Linked DNA regions of Homo sapiens: region 1 is linked to region 2. The links come from fine-mapping of genetic effects on gene expression. Tissue or cell type: thyroid. Region 2 holds a variant in brackets; the other region holds the start of a gene. All regions are shown on one strand. Distances are between the middles of the regions.

Region 1 (8,578 bases), 150 kb after region 2:
TTCGCCATGTTGCTCAGGCTGGTCTCGAACTCCTGAGCTCAAGCAATCTGCCCACCTCGCCCTCCCAAAGTGCTGGGATTACAGGCCTGAGCCACTGCAGCTGGCCTTATTATTATTTTTATTTATATATATTATTTATTATGATTATTTTTAATTTATATATATATATATATAAAATAGAGATAGGGTCTCACTATGTTGTCCAGGCTGGTCTTGAAGTCTTGAACTTCTGGCCTCAAGCAATCCCCTCTCCTTGGCCTCCCAAAGTGCTAGGACTACAGGCATGAGCCGCTGTGCCTGCCCCCACCATCATTCTTGACATGGCCACCACCTACCTTGCTCCCCACTGCCCACCCCTGCCCCGGCCTCTCTCTTATCATACAGAGAGACTACAGAGAACAGGGAGGTGGCAAGGGGATTTGCTGGGAACTCTGAAGCCATGTGAGTAGCCTGGGTGCAAGATTTGGAATCAAAGGTGCATGCCTTCCTACTTGTATGCTCAAAGACAAGTTACCCACTAGGGGCCTTCTTTGTAAAATAGATAAATACCCACCTCAATGGGTTGTGCTGGGGCTCCTCCAGATATTATATGTAAAGATATTTCATAGATCATTATACTTATGTAAATATGTGGCTCAGTAAAAACATCTTAGGAATACATCTAGTTCCTTGGTCCTCAGTTGCCCGCTTAATTCTTCCTGGTCCTCAGGTGCCTGCTGATCTGCTACAGCCTTGGCCAAGTCTGGTCCTTTCTCTCAGCAGCAGATTCCTCATCTATAGTTGGGGGGTGGATATAGCTCTCTGGGGTCCCCTCCAACTCTGCAGTCTTGAATCTGCATGTTTGGTGGTCTGGGATTCAGATGCCTGTTTCAGTCTCCCTCTTAAAGATGACAGCACTTCTCATTCTGACCAATGAGATGGTTTCACTCTAGTTTCCAGTCCCCGGCACTACTCCTGGACATCTCACCGACATGGACAGTTTGTGGCCCCTGAGGTGTGCAGGGACCAAGGTACCAGAGGCTGCAGCACAAGGTCTTAACCCTCTTCCTGGGCTACAGAGAAGAGCAAGACCACTTGGCACAAGGACCAAGAAGCCTTCCTGAGCTAGAAGCAGGAAAAAGGACCAGGGAGGTTTTGCCTCAAGGCACAAGTAGCTGCCTACCCCACAGTTTTATTTGTTTTATTTTATTTATTATTATTATTATTATTTTTAGAGACAGGGTCTTTCCATCTTGCCCAGTCTAGTCTCAAACTCCTGAGCTCAAGTGATGCTCTCTCCCAAAGTGCTGGGATTACAGGTGTGAGCCGCTGTGCCCAGCCCCCACATTGTTTTAAAGGACCCTAGGCCAGGTGCTGTGGATCACATCTGAAATCCCAACACTTTGGGAGACTGAGGCAGGCAAATCACTTGAGCCCAGCAGTTCAAGACCTGCCTGGGCAACATGACAAAACCCCGTCTCTACAAAAAATACAAAAAAAATTAGCTAGACATGGTGGTGCGCACCTGGAGTCCCAGCTACTTGGGAGGCTGATGTGAGAGGATCACCTAAGTCCAAGGAGGTTGAGGCTGCAGTCAGCTGAGATCATGCCACTGCACTCCAGCCTGAGCCAAAGAGTGAGACTCTGTCTCAAAAAACAAACAAACAACAACAACAACAAAAGGACCCTAAATAGCTTCCTCTACCTCACAAAATATCACTCCATTTGCTGCCTTAAGTATAAAATCCCATGATCAAGGAAAAAAGACTTTCACTCCACAATGAAAGAGGGGAATTTAGATGAAAGTTTCTATAGGCAAGGTCATACCCTGCATAATAGTAACACTCCAAAATCAGCAAGAGACCTTAGAATCTGAGAGCAGTTTGGAGTGGGAGAGAGAGAATGAGGACAGAGTTCTGGGCACTCTTAAAAAGAACAAAAGCCCAGAGGTGGGAGATGAAGGCATCTAGAATGTGCTTGACTGGTGTCACTACTTTGTGCTAGGGTTGAGTCCTATTCCCACATGGCCAACAATGGAAGCTTCCTTCTTTCTCTCTCTCACAGCTGCAAAAACTGATGTGATGGCCTGGGAATCAGGACTGGCAACTGTGTGCTCCTGGGCAAGTCACTTCCCCTTACAGATGAGGTTCTGGGCTCAGATGAGGTTCTGGGCTCAGAACCTCATCTGTAGGATGAGAGGGTTGGACAGCTTGGTCTCTAAGGTCTTTTCTGCCTCTGCCATTTTAAGATTCTCAACTCCTCAGAATCTTCTGCAGAGCACTGAGTAGGACTGGGCTATAGGAGAACAGCTAAATTTAAGGCCCAGAGCCCTGGCAGAGGCTGGGATGGTGCAGCTGCAGCTGTGGCCCCGGGGTGGGCCCCTGCCTGCCCTCCCACCATCTCTGCTTACCCGCAGCCAGCTGCATCCATGCACAGATCTTATAGACTGTGGCCGTGTTGCAGATGAAGAACAGGCTGAAGCAGATGATGGAGCCAATGATGAGGAACATGCCCAAGGCCACAAAGAACATGGCAGTCTTGAAGGCTCTAGAGGGGATGGAGGAGAAGTCTAGGGGGCCGCCCTTGCAGATGAGCTCGGAGGACAGCACGTTACCCACGCAGTAGGAGAAAAGGCCGAAGTAGCCTGCCTGCGGTGTGTTGACGCTGTCGCCGATCCAGTAGGGCTGGATGAAGAGGGCCATGACCAGTACGGAGAAGCAGATGGTGAGGGTACCCCACATCACGCCCACGGCTCGCGAGTTCCGCACATAGTTGGTATGGTAGATCTTGGCTGCCTCCTGGGCCGGCAGCAATTTCACCATGGTGAGGGCAGCAGGCCCTGGGCTGGGGTCCCGTGGGCTGCAAGTCCGTAGCTTTGTGGATGGAGGCCTAGAAGCAGGTCACTCCCCAGCGGGGTTTGGGGAGGAGGCTGAGGTCAGGGCACCAGGTGAGGTCCCTTCAAGGCAAGGGGAAGAGGCTTAATAGGACAAGGACAACCTTGATTTGGTCAAGGAAAGCTTGCCAGGTGCCTGTGTCCGCTCTAGCCGAGGCTGTCTCCAGTCTCCTGCCTCCTCCCAAGCCCACCAGGGCCTGCTGGCGCCGCCCTGCCCGTCTCCCTCTTCCCGGCTCACGGCTCCCGAGAGCCCCGCCCCCTCCTCCGTCCGCGGAGGGCGCCGTTTCAGCACCGCGGCCAGCGCCCCGGGGTTCCGGGCGAGGGGCGGGGCCTGCAGCAGAGGCGGGGAAGGGGCAGAGCTCCCACTACAGGCCCCCGCCGCGGGGAATCGGAACACCGTTCACCTTCCTGAACCGAGATGACAAGAATTGGGAAGGTGGGGATGTGACTGACACATTCCTACTGCTCAATTCCAGCAGCAAAAACGCTTTCCCCCCGCAAAAGCGCTGTCCACATCCCATCCCACCCCGCCCCTGCCTGGCTCCCTAGTCGCCTTCCCAGAACCTCCAACTCCACCACTCCGGAGGTCAGCAAAGCCTTTCCTGGTTGCCTTCTGGTCACCGGTTTTTCGTCCTTAGCATTCAGTCAACGATTTCTAAAAGCATACTATGTGTTAAGATTATGTTGGAGGACATCTAAGCAAAACCACAGATAAAAAAGACAGGGCCCCCGTCCTCAAAGACAGTGAAATATTTACATATATAATATACGTATATATGTAGTCTATATAAATATATATATAAAACGCCTGTATATGCAGACTGATTGTGTGATAACAGAAGCAACTACAAAGTATAGCAGACAACATTCTTTATGAGCCTTCTCAGACCTGAACATATGTGTTTTGTCAAATACAATGCCTTTCTCCCCTTGTTTCTATTTGTTTGTTACATATTTCCCCATTTAAATATATATATGTTTTAATATATTATATATATACATATTTCTCCTGATTTTATAGGTAAATACATGGCTAGTGTAAAGAACTAGGAAAATTCCACTGGGCGTGGGGCTTACGCCTGTAATCCCAGCACTTTGGAAGGCCAAGGCAGGCGGATCATGAGGTCAGGAGATCGAGACCATCCTGGCTAACACAGTGAAACCCCGTCTCTACTAAAAATACAAAAAAATTAGCCGGGCGTGGCAGCACGCGCCTGTTGTCCCAGCTGCTGGGGAGGCTGAGGCAGAAGAATGGTGTGAACTCGGGAGGCGGAGCTTGCAGTGAGCCGAGATCGCGCCACTGCACTCCAGCCTGGGTGACAGAGCAAGACTCCGTCTCAAAAAAAAAAAAATAATAATAATAATAACACCAACGTCCGGAGCTAAGGAAAGACAAGACAATCTTAAAAACATGGACTTTGGGGTTCAACAGGCCTGGATTTGAATGAGCTACTTACTAAGTAACCATCCATGGACTTAACCTTCCTTCCGGAGCCTCAGTTTCGCCATCTATTAAATGCAGGAAATGCACTTACGCCGGGCGTAGTGGCGGGTGCCTGTATTCCCAGCTACTCAGGAGGCTGAGACAGGAGAATTGCTTGAACCCCGGGAAGCAGAGGTGGCAGTGAGCTGAGATCGCACCATTGCACTCCAGCCTGGGCAACAAGAGCAAAACTCCATTTCAAAAAATAATAATAATAATTTTTTTTTTAAAGTGCTCAAAGGTACATTAGTGGTCTCTAATCCCAGCACTTTGGGAGGCCAGGCAGTCCGATCACTTGAGCTCAGGAATTCTAGACTAGCCTGGGCAACATAGCAAGACTCCCGTCTCTACAAAAAATACACAACTTAGCCAGGCATAGCCAGGCATGGTGGTGCTTGCCTGTAGTCGCAGCTACTTGGGAGGTTGAGGTGGGAGAATCACTGGAGCCCAGGAGGTCGAGGCTGCAGTGAACCATGATCACACCACTGCACTCCAGTCTGGGCTTTAACAAAAAAAGAGAAAGTACTCAAAAATGTTGGTGATTATTATTATTACCATTGTTAATCTCTGCAGTTTCCCCCTTCTGAACATACTCCTTTACACAATTGGATGATGTATGTACAATTTTATTTTATTTTATTTTATTTTATTTTTATTTTACTTTTCTTGAGACAGAGTTTCACTCTTGTTGCCCAAGCTGGAGTGCAATGGCATGATCTTGGCTCACAGCAACCTCCGCCTCCCTGGTTCAAGCGATCCTCCTGTCTCAGCCTCCCAAGTAGCTGGGATTACAGGCATGCACTGCCATGCCCAGCTAGTTTTTTGTTTTGTTTTGTTTTTTGTTCTTTGAGACAGAGTTTTGCTCTTGTTGCCCAGACTGGAGTGCAGTGGCGCGAACTTGGCTCACGGCAACCTCCACCTTCCTGGTTCAACTGATTCTCCTGCCTCAGCCTCCTGAGTAGCTGGGATTACAGGCATGGCCGCCACACCCAGCTAACTTTGTATTTTTAGTAGAGACAGGGTTTCTCCATGTTGGTCAGGCTGGTCTCGAACTCCCAACCTCAGGTGATCCACCTGCCTCGGCCTCCCAAAGTGCTGGATTACAGGCATGAGCCACCGTGCCCGGCCGTATGTACATTTTTTTCACTTAGCATTATAATGTTAATATTTTCTCCTATTACTTTTTTTCCCTTTGGTATGTTTTGTCAGTTTCACATTTTTTTTTTTTTTTTTTTTAGACAGAGTTTTGCTCTGTCACCCAGGCTGGAGTACAGTGGCTCAATCTCAGTTCACTACAACCTCCACCTCCCGGGTTCAAGCGATTCTCCTGTCTCAACTTCCCAAGTAGCTGAGAGTACAGGCATGAGCCACCATACCCAGCTAATTTTTGTATTTTTAGTAGAGGCGGGGTTTCACCATGTTGGCCAGGCTGGTCTCGAACTCCTGACCTAAAGTGATCCACCTGCCTCGGCCTCCCAAAGTGCTGGGATTACAGGCTTGAGCCACTGAGCCTGGCCCTTCACTTTTTCACTTTATTTATTTTTTTTGAGACGAAGTCTCACTCTGTTGCCCAAGCTGGAGTGCAGTGGCGCAATCTCGGCTCACTGCAACCTCCACCCACCTCCCGGATTCAAGTGATTCTCCTGCCTCAGCCTCCCAAGTAGCTGGGACTACAGCCGTGAGCCACCACACTCAGCTAATTTTTGTATTTTTATACAGACAGGGTTTCACTATGTTGGCCAGGCTGGTCTCGAACTCCTGACCTAGTGATCCGCCCGCCTTGGCCTCCCAAAGTGCTGGGATTACAGCTGTGCCCGGCCAGTAAGGTTGTTTTGTTTAATTTTGTTTTGTTTTGTTTCGTTTTATTGAGACGAAGATTCGCTCTTGATGCCCAGGCTTGAGTGCAATGGCACAGTCTCGGCTCACTGCAACCTCCGCCTCCCAGGTTCAAGCGATTCTCCTGCCTCAGCCTCCCAAGTAACTGGGATTACAGGCATGTGCCACCATGCCTGGCTAATTTTGTATTTTTAGTAGAGATGGGGTTTCATTATGTTAGTCAGGCTGGTCTCAAACTCCTGACCTCAAGTTATCTGCCCGCCTCGGCCTCCCAAAGTGTTGGGATTACAGGCGTGAGCCACCGCACCTGGCTCAGGTTGTTTTTAATAGTAAAAAAGTGGCTGGGTGCAGTGGCTGGCTCACACCTGTAATCCCAACATTAATAATAATTTTGAAGCTAGCTTATGTATTAAAGATTTTACTTACATTACATAAACTTGAAACAGCATTTGACTAGTCTTTTTTCCTGATAAAGTGTTCAAGTGCTTTTATTTTCTTAAGCCAATTAGAGCTCTTTTATTTATTTTCAGTAGTGAAACACTGTGCACACCACCCATAAATACATAGACATATCAGGCATGCCTATAGAAGTACATCTTACAGATTTATAAAAACCTTTTTTTTTCCTATTTTAATCTTTCAGATTCTTTTTGTTTGTTTTTGAGATGGAGTCTCGCTCTGTCACCTAGGCCGGAGTGCAGTGGTGCAATCTTGGCTCACTGCAACCTCTGCCTCCCAAATTGAAACAATTCTTCTGCTTCAGCCTCCCGAGTAGCTGGGATTACAGGTGCCTGCCACCATCCTCAGTTAATTTTTCTATTTTTAGTAGAGACGGGGTTTCACCAGGTTGGCCAGGAAGGTCTCAAACACCTGACCTCAAGAGTTATCAAATTCTTGATAACCTCTTTCACAACCCTAGGCAGTTGACAGCTAAATAGCCTTAAATTTGCATATTAAAGGAAACAGTTCAGATGAAAGTCAAACAGCAAAATTTACATTATAAGGTGCGCCAAGAAAAGTCTGGTGTTCTAGAGGGAAATTAAAACAGATTTAATTGCCAATTAAACATAAAAGTATGGAAATTATAAAGGCCTTTTAAACACACACACACACACACACACCTTGTAGCTTTTACTTCAGAACTTTTAGCCATGAAATAAATACAAATTCACCTGGCTTGCAAAAAGAACTTGTTGGATCTAAACAGTGGTTTTTCTCTTAATAGAAAAATAACAGCAGATTGCCGGGCGCGGTGGCTCACGCCTGTAATCCCAGCACTGTGGGAGGCCAAAGTGGGCGGATCACGAGGTCAGGAGTTCCAGACCAGACTGGCCAACATGGTGAAACCCCATCTCTACTAAAAATACAAAAAATTAGCTGGGTGTGGTGGCAGGCACCTATAATCCCAGCTACTCAGGAGGCTGAGGCAGGAGAATGACTTGAACCCGGGAGGCAGAAGTTGCAGTGAGATGAGATTGTGCCATTGCACTCCAGGCTGGGCAACAGAGTGAGACTCCATCGAAAGGAAGGGAGGGAGGAAGGAAGGAAGGAAGGAGGGAAGGAAGGAAGGAAGGAAGATTTAGAGCAGGCAGAAAAGAAAAATAGAGAAAAAGATGACTTAGGAATTCTATAGTTTGCAGGTCAACCTTAGGGCTCTTTTTCCTTAATGTAAATGTGCACAAAGACCACGTTATTTCCATTTTACATAAACTTTGTCAGGTAGAGGTGCCATAAAAGCTACGGAGTGCTCAAAAGGGGGTCATTTTCTTTGTTTTCTCCTCATTCTGAAACCACCTTTGCAAAATTATGACTGAGACAGTGAAAGAGATCTAACTTAAGTGACTCCATCTTGTTTCTAACCTCCAAGCTGTCCTTGTTCATTCCTAGGCGTAAGCTGAACTAACTTTGGGAGAAACTTAGTTTATAGTTTAAACAAAGACAGTAACAGCCCTTTCCCAAAGCTGACTTCATTCTTGCCTGGGGACTAGATTGCCTTTGTAGGACTAACATTAGCCACAAGATTAGAAATTATGGTTTAGGAGTCACGCAGCTGGAGGCTACAAGATCCTGATCCTCCCTAAACTACTCCTAAGATCAGTGCTTGAGATATTTTGCTGACCCTGCACTTGATGGATCAGCTGGCCCCACCCAGATCAATAAACTGGCTCATCTGATCTTGTGGCCCTCACCCAGTAATTGACTGGGTGCACGAAGACAGCTCTGAGTCCCTATGATTTCATCTCTGACCAATCATCACCCCTGGCTCACTGGCTTCCCCCCACCCACCAAGTTATCTTCAAAAACTCTGCTCCCTGCTGGGCATGGTAGCTCATGCCTGTAATCCCAGCACTTTGGGAGACTGAGGCAGGTGGATCACTTGAGGTCAG
Region 2 (10,175 bases):
CTTTTGTTTTTTTTTTTTTCTTTTGAGATGGAGTTTTGCTCTTATTGCCCAGGCTGGAGTGCAATGGCACAATTTCAACTCCCTGCAACTTCTGCCTTCTGGGTTCAAGCGATTCTCCTGCCTCAGCCTCCTAAGTAGCTGGGATTACAGGCATGCACCACCACACCTGGCTAACTTTGTATTTTTAGTAGAGATGGAATTTCGCCATGTTGGTCAGGCTGGTCTCGAACTCCTGACCTCAGATGATCCACCCACCTCAGCCTCCCAAAGTTCTGGGATTACAGGTGTGAGCCACCATGCCTGGCCTTACTTATCCCTTCAATGAACGTGTGCACACTGCCAGGTAGAGTCTGGTTCCTGTAAATGCAGAGTCCACATTTGCATCCTGCACATCATTGTGTTCCTGGTCCTTGTTACTGTCCTTAAGCTATAGCAGGCAGTCTGGGCCTTTAGGAGGTTGACAGCAGTGGTAAAGACAGCCTTGCTCATGTAATTTTTTTTTTTTTTTTTTTTTTGGACATAAGGTCTTGCTCTGTTGCTCAATCTGGAGTGTGGTGGTGTGGTCACAGCTCACTGCAGCCTCAACCTCCCAGCTTCAAGCGATCCTCTCACCTCAGCCTCCTGAGTACCTGGGACAATAGGCGTGTGCCAGCTTTTTTTGGGGAGGGGGCAGGGGGGCACGACAGGGTCTCACTGTGTCACCCAGGCTGGAGTGTGCACTGGTGCAATCTTGGCTCACTGCAACCTTCATCTCCCAGGCTCAAGCAATCCTCCCACCTCAGCCTCCCCAGTAGGTGGGGCTACAGGCTCACTGACACGCCCAGCTATTTTTATTCTTATTTATTTTTTATTGTTTTGTATTTTTTGTAGAGACAGATTTTTGCCATGTTGCCCAGGCTGGTTTCAAACTGCTGAGCTCAAGGGATCCACCTGCTTTGACCTTCCAAAGTGCTAGAATTATAGGCATGAGCCACTGCACCCAGCCTTCAAGTGCTTTTTGTCTTAAGGAAGTCTGAAAGGAGACTGTTGCACTGATGAAGGAAGAGGGTGCTGAGACAAGGGACTGATGGGAAAAAAATACTTCACACAAAGTATTAGTAGGCACTGGAGACTAACTAGGACCCAAGCATGAGGAAAAGGAGTAAAAGATGTTTTAAGTCTGGCTCACTGGGACAGTGATGAACATCAGAAGTTGGGAGGGGGGTGTCGTGGGTGGTGAAGATGAGGAAAGATGACTGTGGGGGCTTCAGTTGTGAGCTTGAAGTGACAGATATCCAAGTAAAAAATGCACAGTACCTACTCTCGGGAGAAGTTTCATGAGAGAGGGACATGAGCTGGCAGAGACAAGAAATAGCATCGTTGCAAGTCCTTCCGGCCCTTGTTGGTGTCTTACCACAGCCCTCCCTTAACTCTGTCGTCCCAGATTCTTTACACAGAGCGATTTGAAAATAAACTGGATCCCGAAGCATCCTCCATTAACCTGATTCACTGCTCACATTTTGAGAGCATGAACACAAGCCAAACTGCATCCGAAGACCAAGTGCCATACACAGTATCGTCCGTGTCTCAGAAAAATCAAGGGCAACAGTATGAGGAGGTGGAGGAAGTTTGGCTTCCTAATAACTCATCAAGAAACAGCTCACCAGGACTGCCTGATGTGGCGGAAAGCCAGGGGAGGAGATCACTCATCCCTTACTCAGATGCGTCTCTACTGCCCAGTGTCCACACCATCATCCTGGATTTCTCCATGGTACACTACGTGGATTCACGGGGGTTAGTCGTATTAAGACAGGTAAGTACTGAGGAGGCCTTGGCAGGAGCTCTGATCCCCCTCCTACCATCCCAACCCCACCCTGATCCTGATTGAATTCTGTTAGTCACTGATCAGCTGCTATGAGACTGCTAGGCCACCAGAGCCTTGGACACCAAAGGCAGTACAATATAAGGTCAATCAAAATAAAAAGAGAATGAACCAATTCTTTTTTCTTTTTTCTTTTTTGAGATGGAGCCTCACTCTGTTGCCCAGGCTGGAGTGCAGTGGCACAATCTTGGCTCACTGCAACCTCCACCTCCCAGGTTCAAGAGATTCTCCTGCCTCAGCCTCCTGAATAGCTGGAACTACAGGCATGTGTCACTACGCCCTGCTAATTTTTGTATTTTTGGTAGAGACGGGGTTTCACCATGTTGGCCAGGTTGGTCTCAAACTGCTAACCTCAAGTGATCCGCGCACCTCGGCCTACCAAAGCTCTGGGATTACAGGCGTGAGCCACCATGCCCAGCCTAAAATGAACCAATTCTGATGTATTGAGCTGCGGTTGGTTTGGTAAGCATAAAACATTATTATTTCTCAAGAAATGAAAAACAGGACACTCTGAACTTCACTGAAACAGCAATCTGTGCCACGCCCAGTAACTCCCAGAACATCCTGGGAGTCAGCTGCAAATCTCTTCAAGGAATAGGTCTGAATGCTTCAGAAAAAAAGCAGCTCACCAGGAATTCTCCACAGTTCAGCTGATCTGAGCCAGCACTGTAAAAGGCACTGGGCTGTCTTGTACTCCAGTTTGAAGACGTTGGGATGAAATGACACCTCAAACTTGGGGCTGGCTGTCCAGTACCTGCAGGGTCTTCCCCACTTCCTTCCTCACTGACACATCATCAGGTGAAAAGGACAAGGATGATTTTCCCTTCAAAAGCTGTGTCCCCGGGTCCTGACTTCTTTTCTACTCTTGGGTTTCTCTAACAGTTCTCTTTTGTCTTCCTCCTATATGGTACAGACAGTTTAAGTGCACAGCTAACCATATTGATGTCATTGTTTAATGCCTCATAAGTATAATATTCCTTTTTAGCCAGCTTATCCCAGTTTACAGCACTCTGTCTCCCTCTTGGTGATGGCTCAGGTTTGAACATCCTGAACACTCATGGTGTTTGAGTGCTTCTTTTGAGATTTGCACACCTCTTTTGAGATTTGTGCCTTTGGATGGTTTTCCTTCTTTTATCCTCAGAACCTATTTTGTCATATTTTCTTACTCCTAAGGGAATACGACTGCCTCTTAAGTGAGTCCAGCTTCTCTTTGGTCTGGGGCAAAAGGAAGCTTTTCATAGCAGAAAGAACTCTGGTTTGCAGTCTGGGATGTATGCTCTGTCTTGGCTCACTGTCCTTCTGACCCGAGGCAAGTTACTAAATTGAACTGGGTCTCCGTTTCCTAATCTACAAAATGAGAGGTTTGGAAGAGATTAAGAGCTTTCCCATCCATGAGATCCTTTTATTTTTCAACACCACTTTCTGACTCAATTATACTTTGAAAATCTGTTGTTATTTGGGCTTTTCCATCTTATTCTACTGGGCTATGTTCTCCCCTCCTGGTCCTGGGCTGTAGTTGTTACTTTAGATTTTATTCAGCCCACGTTGCTGAGTGTCTACTACGTGCCAGACTGAGCTGGGCACATGTATATACACTATCTCATGTAATTTTCACAACTGCCTTGAGAGACAGGCCATACTTTCCCCTAAGAGTCTGAGGCTCACAGCTCATAAGTGGCCTGTCCAGCATTGAAACTTTTAAGTATCTGACTTTATATCATACTTTCTCTCTGTTCCATGGTATAGTTGTGCCATTGTCTCCCTTGCTCCTCCTCTTTTTGTAGAGGCACCATATGTTCTGGTCCTTGGCAGCACCCACCCACACCTGGCCCATGTTGATGACTTTCTGTTCCATCCCCAACATGGAGACAATGTCAGACGCCTTTCACTTTCAGCCTTCAGAGATTCATGGTGTACTTTTGCACTCTAAAAATACAGGTTTCTTCATTTCCTTTGTAGTTGTGTATACTGCCTCCTTATTGGAAGAAATCATTCTATTTACTTTATAATTGAAAACTGGAACCTAAGAAAAATCCATCAGTCCATTTTTTTTTTTTTTTTTTTTTTTTGAGACAGCATCTTGCTGTGTCGCCCAGGCTGGAGTGCAGTGGCATGATCTCGGCTCACTGCAATCTCCACCTCCCGGGTTCAAGTGATTCTTCTGCCTCAGTCTCCTGAGTAGCTGGGACTACAGGCGCACACCACCACACCCGCATAATTTTTGTATTTTTAGTAGAGACGGGGTTTCACCATATTGGCCAGGCTTGTCTCGAACTTCTGACCTCGTGATCTGCTTGCCTCAGCCTCCCAAAGTGCTGGGATTACAGGCATGAGCCACCGCGCTCAGCCTACCCATCAGTCCATTCTTATTGGAGACAGCCACTCAGATTAAACTTCTTCCTAATTCATGGGACTTTCCTTTTCCAGCACTTGTCATTTAGAGTCTGTTGTGGCCCTTTGCCAAATGACTTTGTGATTTGCCATATGATCAAGAATGACTTCATTTCCTCTTGGTAGTGAAAGAAGCAGAGTTCGTTTCTTTTGACACTTTAACTTAGTGCTCAGGGTTGGTGTCTACTTAGTCTTAAGTATTAAAGTCGATATTGATTTGCTTTGAAGTGAACTTCAAGATTTATTGCCCCACAGTGTATATATTGGCTGAAGCAAACTTGAGGACAGTAGCTGATGTTTACTTATCTGATAGTAAACATCTGATGTTTTACTAAAATCAAATGCAACTTTGCAAGGCAGCTCTGAATGTGACCCTCAGGGTTTCTGAATTCCGTTCCCTACTGCATCACTTGAGCGTCTCTGAGCCACATCTTGCTTCCTCTGCTCAGTAAACTCCAGGGGGAAG[T/G]GGGGGTCTCATGCAAACACTAGGCCATCATGCCAAAATATGGTTGTTTGAGATGATTCTCCAGAGTGTTTGCCTCACACCTGTGCCTGTCTCTATGCTAGGGCTTTCCTCCTGCAGACGTCCTGTCTTGATATATACTGTTTATCCCCTTGAGACTATGGGCAGCTCTCCCTCCTGCTCCCCACCCTCACATGACACGGTCTGATTCTCTTTTGCATTCCCAGCACTGTAGATGTTTTCCGGCATAGAGAACTCCACTCATCAAATGTTTGTAGAGCTGAATTGGGATGCAAGGTACATATACCCCCAGACAAGTGAAGGGCCAAAGGGGTTTTAAAACTCGGCTAATTGGCTGGGTGCAGTGGCCCACGCCTGTAATCCCAGCATTTTGGGACGTCGAGGCAGGCAGATCACGAAGTCAGGAGTTTGAGACCAGCCTGGCCAATATGGTGAAACCCTGTCTCTATTAAAAATACAAAAATTAGCCAGGCGTGTGGTATGCACCTGTAGTCTCAGCTACTTGGGAGGCTGAGGTGGACAAATCACTTGAACCTGGGAGGCGGAGGTTGCAGTGAGCCGAGATCATGCCACTGCACTCCATCTGGGTGACAGAGTGAGACTCTGTCACAAAAAACCAAAACAAAACAAGACAAAAACTTAGCTAATTAGAAGGCCTTTCCTAGCAAGTATAAAGCCTTCTGATACTGGTTTTCTCTCCCCCCACAGATATGCAATGCCTTTCAAAACGCCAACATTTTGATACTCATTGCAGGGTGTCACTGTGAGTATCCTTCACCCTATGAGAGGGCTGTTTTGCACCCTGGGTCCTCTGCTCCCCAAGTATCTGACATTGTGTGTGTTCTGGGTTTGGTTTTTAGCTTCCATAGTCAGGGCATTTGAGAGGAATGATTTCTTTGACGCTGGCATCACCAAGACCCAGCTGTTCCTCAGCGTTCACGACGCCGTGCTGTTTGCCTTGTCAAGGAAGGTCATAGGCTCCTCTGAGTTAAGCATCGATGAATCCGAGACAGTGATACGGGAAACCTACTCAGAAACAGACAAGGTCAGACAAACCGACAAAGCATGAGGTTGGGGGAAGGGATTGAGGGCAGTGGGGGGATGGGTGAGGGGTGGTTGGGGGCTGGGAGTCAGGATTCCTGATCAGATAGAGGAATAATGTCCAGGAAAGGTATTTAGTATGGCTGTACCAGAATCTGGGATGTTGAAATGCACCCTTACCACTTGGTAAATAGCAGTGGATCTGAGCAGCCAAGTGCCCTCACTGTCATGGCATCAGGGTTCCATTCAAGAAATTTCCCTAACTGAAGAGAGGGTTTGCCCAACCCAGCACAGACCTCAAGGATCCTTCTACAGCATTCTTGGTTAGTGTCTATTACCAGTTGCTAAATATTCTAAATGTCTCCCCTAGCTATACCTTTAGAATTCCTCCCCACCCCACCCACTCTTGGGATGAATAATAATACTAATGAACTAGCAGAGATTCAGATCTATAATCTTGTCTAATACCTCAGCTTTATTACCTTTACATTGTTGTGGTATGAGATTTACTCAAGCTGACCAAATGCAAAGGAGAATAATATATAAGTCTGAATTTTCAGCCTTTTATTAATACTGAGACCTGGCTGAGTGCGATGGCTCACGCCTGTAATCCTAGCACCTTGGGAGGCCGAGGCAGGTAGATCATGAGATCAGGAGTTCGAGACCATCCTAGCCAACATGGTGAAACTCCTTCTCTACTAGAACTACAAAAATTAGCCAGGCATGGTGGCGGGCACCTGTAGTCCCAGTTGCTTGGGAGGCTGAGGCAGAATTGCTTGAACCCGGGAGGCAGAGGTTGCAGTGAGCTGAGATCACGCCACTGCACTCCAGCCTGGGCGACAGAGTGAGACTCTGTCTAAAAAAAAAAAAATACTGAGACCTGGGCCTACTTTAGCATTTTCAAATCAGTACCTGTGTAGGTTAAAGGTTTCCAAAAACAAAAAAAGGAAATTAAAACAGATGGGCACTAAAATATTATCTAATATTATCTAATGACTAGAAATCATTATTAAACAAAGCCTAGTTGATGAAATGAGACACCACATCTGAAACAGTTAAGACCGTACAACGGGCGGGCGAGATGGCTCACGCCTGTAATCCCAGCACTTTGGGAGGCCAAGGCAGGCGAATCACTAGGTCAGGAGATCGAGACCATCCTGGTGAAACCCCATCTCTACTAAAAATACAAAAAAATTAGCCGGGCGTGGTGGCACGCGCCTGTAGTCCCAGCTACTTGGGAGGCTGAGGCAGGAGAATCGCTTGAACCCAGGAGGCAGAGGTTGCAGTGAGCCGAGATCGCGCCACTGCACTCCAGACTGGGCGACGGAGTGAGACTCTAAAAAAAAAAACAAAAAAACACACACACACACAACTAGTTAACTGGTAGTTAATAAAAAAACAACTAGTTAACTAGTAGTTAATAATTAGTAATGACTAACTAATTGGTTTGAATTATGCAGTCTGCTTTTACTATAAATGGAAGTTTCTCTATTTTTTAATTTATAATTATGATACTCGATATATTTGTTTTTACATATTTAGTCATATCTATTAATGTTTCCTTTTCTTATTATATTTACTTTTTATTTAGAAAGTCATTCCCTCTTAGAAGGTAAATAAGACACATTTTCTAGATTTTTATGTTTTTATTTTTTATATGTTATACTCTTTAATGTAAATAGAATGTATTTCAGTATACAGGTATTGAAGGGTAATCTTTATTTTTTTTTTATTTTTGAGACAGTCTCATTCTGTCACCCAGGCTGGAGTGCAATGGCATGGTCTCGGCTCACTGCAACCTCTGCCTCCTGGGTTCAAGCGATTCTCCTGCCTCAGCCTTCCAGGTAGCTGGGACTACAGGCGCCCGCCACCACACCTGGATAATTTTTATATTTTTAGTAGAGACAGGGTTTCACTATGTAGGCCAGGCTGGTCTTGAACTCCTGACCTCATGATCTACCCGCCCCAGCCTCCCAAAGTGCTGGGATTACAGGCATGAGCCACTGCACTCAGGCTTAATCTTTATTTTTTATCTATGTAGCTAACTATTTTGGGCTATATGCCATCTATCTTAGTTCATTAGTGCTACTATAACAAAATATCTGAGACTGGGTAATTTGTAAATAATAGATATTTATTTCTCACAGTTCTGAATGCGAGAAGTCCAAGATCAAGGTCCTGGCAGTTTCAGTGTCTGCTGAGGGCTTCTTCCATCTTCTCTCAGCAGCATCCCCACATGGCAGAAGGTGGAAGGACAAAAGGGTTTATGCTAGCCCTCCAGCCCTTTTATAAGGCACTAATCCATTCACAAGGGCAGAGCCCTTATGACTTAATCACTCCCCAAAGGCCTCACCTCTTAATACCACCACAATGTGGATGGATTTTGGAAGCCACTCATGCAAATCATACCACCATCCAACCATCTATTGAATAAGCCTTCTTTCCCCTACTGATATGTTATTTTCATAAAATATTATATTCTTATGAAAACTAAAGTGTATTTCTAGTTTAGTTGTGGATGTCATTTTTCTGTATAGCTTCAGTATCACAGTGTTTTTTGTTTTTGTTTTTGTTTTTTGAGACAGAGTCTCACTTTGTCGCCCAGTCTGGAGTGCAGTGGCACAATCTCGGCTCACTGCAACCTCCGCCTCCCAGGTTCACGTGATTGTCCTGCCTCAGCGTCCTGAGTAGCTGGGCTTACAGGCATGCGCCACCACACCTGGCTTATTTTTGTATTTTTATTTGAGACGAGGTTTCACCATGTTGCCCAGGCTGGTCTCGAACTCCTGACCTCAGGTGATCTGCCCACCTTAGCCTCCCAAAATGCTGGGATTACAGATGTGAGCCATCGTGCCTAGCCATCACACTGTTTTTATTAGTATTGCTGTATAATACACTTTAACATTTGGTTAAGAAGTCCTATGTCATCAGTGTTCTATTTCAAAATTTGCTAAGTCATTCTCACCAATTTATTCTTCCAAACCAACTTTTGAATCTTTTGTCAGGTCCCCACCCCACAAAAACAAATCTTATTGAAATAATCATTAGAGTTGTATTAAAAATATAAAATCCCTTGAGAATTTATATCTTTATAGTATTCATTCTTCTTATCCAGAAACATGAACTGTCTCTACATTTATTGTCTTCTTAAATGTTTCATTCATAGTAAGGTTTTGTGACTTTCTTCACATGGGAAAATCTTAGATACTTTATATGTTTTACTTTTTTGTTTTTTTGAGACAGGGTCTCACTCTGTCACCCAGGCTGAAGTGCAGTGGCATGATCACAGTGCACCACAGCCTCGGCCTCTCAGGCTCAAGCAATCCTCCAACCTCAGCCTCCTGAGTATTTGGGAGTACAGACGCACACCACTATGCCCAGCTAATATTTGTATCTTTCACAGAGACGGGGTTTTGCCATGTTGCCCAGGCTAGTCTTAAACTCCTGGGCTCCAGCAATCCACCCACCTCCACCTCCCAAAGTGCTGGGATTACAGGCATGAGCCACCACACCTGGCCATTTCCATTATATTTTCTAACTGGCAATTGCTAACATATAGGAAACTCATTGGTTTTTATTAAATTATTTGGCTACCTTTGTGAATCACTTTACTATTCCTAAGAGGTTTCACTGTTAATTCCTTTGGGTTTTCCAAATAGGAAAATATTTTCTAAAAATAATACTAATCTCTTATGTTCCAATTGTTAGAATTCTTATTTCAATATCATATATTATTGCATTAACTAAACCTCTCAGAACAAGTAATAATGATGAATCTTGTCTTACTCCTGAATTTAATGAGAAGGATCCTGTGTGTCTCTATTAAGACTAGTGGTGGCCAAGTGTGGTGGCTCATGCCTGCAATCCTAGCACTTCGGGAGGCCAAGGAAGGCGGATCACTTGAGGCCAGGAGTTTGAGACCAGCCTGGCCAACATGACAAAACCCTGTCTCTACAAAAAATACAAAAAAATTAGCTGGGCATGCTGGCGCGTGCCTATAACCCCAGCTACTCAGGAGGCCAAGGCATGAGAATCACTTTAACCCAGGAAGCGGAGGTTGCAGTGGGCTGAGATCCTGCCACTGCACTCCAGCCTGGGCAACAGAGCGAGACCCTGTTTCAAAAAAAAATTAAAAAATAAAAGACTAGTGGTGATGCTGGTTTAAGATGGACATATCAGCCAGCCGTAGTAACTCATGCCTGTAATGTCAGCACTTTGGGAGACTGAGGCAGAAGAATCACTTGAGGCCAGGAATTTCAGAGCAACCTGGACAACATAGTGAGACTCTTATCTTGAAAAAAAAAACTAAAAATCAGCCAGGTATGATGGTGCATACCTGTAATCCTAGCTACTCGGGAGCTTGAGGCAGGAGGATTGCTTGAGCCCAGTAGTTTGAGG

Evidence for each region. PIP is the estimated chance that this variant, and not a neighbour inherited with it, causes the effect. A credible set is the group of variants that fine-mapping cannot tell apart.
Region 1: it holds the start of LHFPL5, and the variant in region 2 is the best candidate, but not a certain one, in a credible set for the expression of LHFPL5 in thyroid (GTEx, PIP 0.87).

What each region holds. Positions count from the first base shown.
Region 1 is chr6:35,799,894-35,808,471 of GRCh38, reverse strand. It overlaps LHFPL5 (LHFPL tetraspan subfamily member 5), which reads right to left and starts at 3,120. Exons shown (of 4, transcript NM_182548.4): 1 at 2,390-3,120. The coding sequence starts at 2,801. RefSeq lists a silencer at 3,082-3,251.
Region 2 is chr6:35,946,769-35,956,943 of GRCh38, reverse strand. It overlaps SLC26A8 (solute carrier family 26 member 8), which reads left to right. Exons shown (of 20, transcript NM_052961.4): 17 at 1,424-1,792; 18 at 5,445-5,499; 19 at 5,597-5,781. Among named protein-coding and RNA genes, the nearest start is that of SRPK1, 31 kb to the right of the region's middle. The variant T/G (reference allele first, on the strand shown) is at 4,719.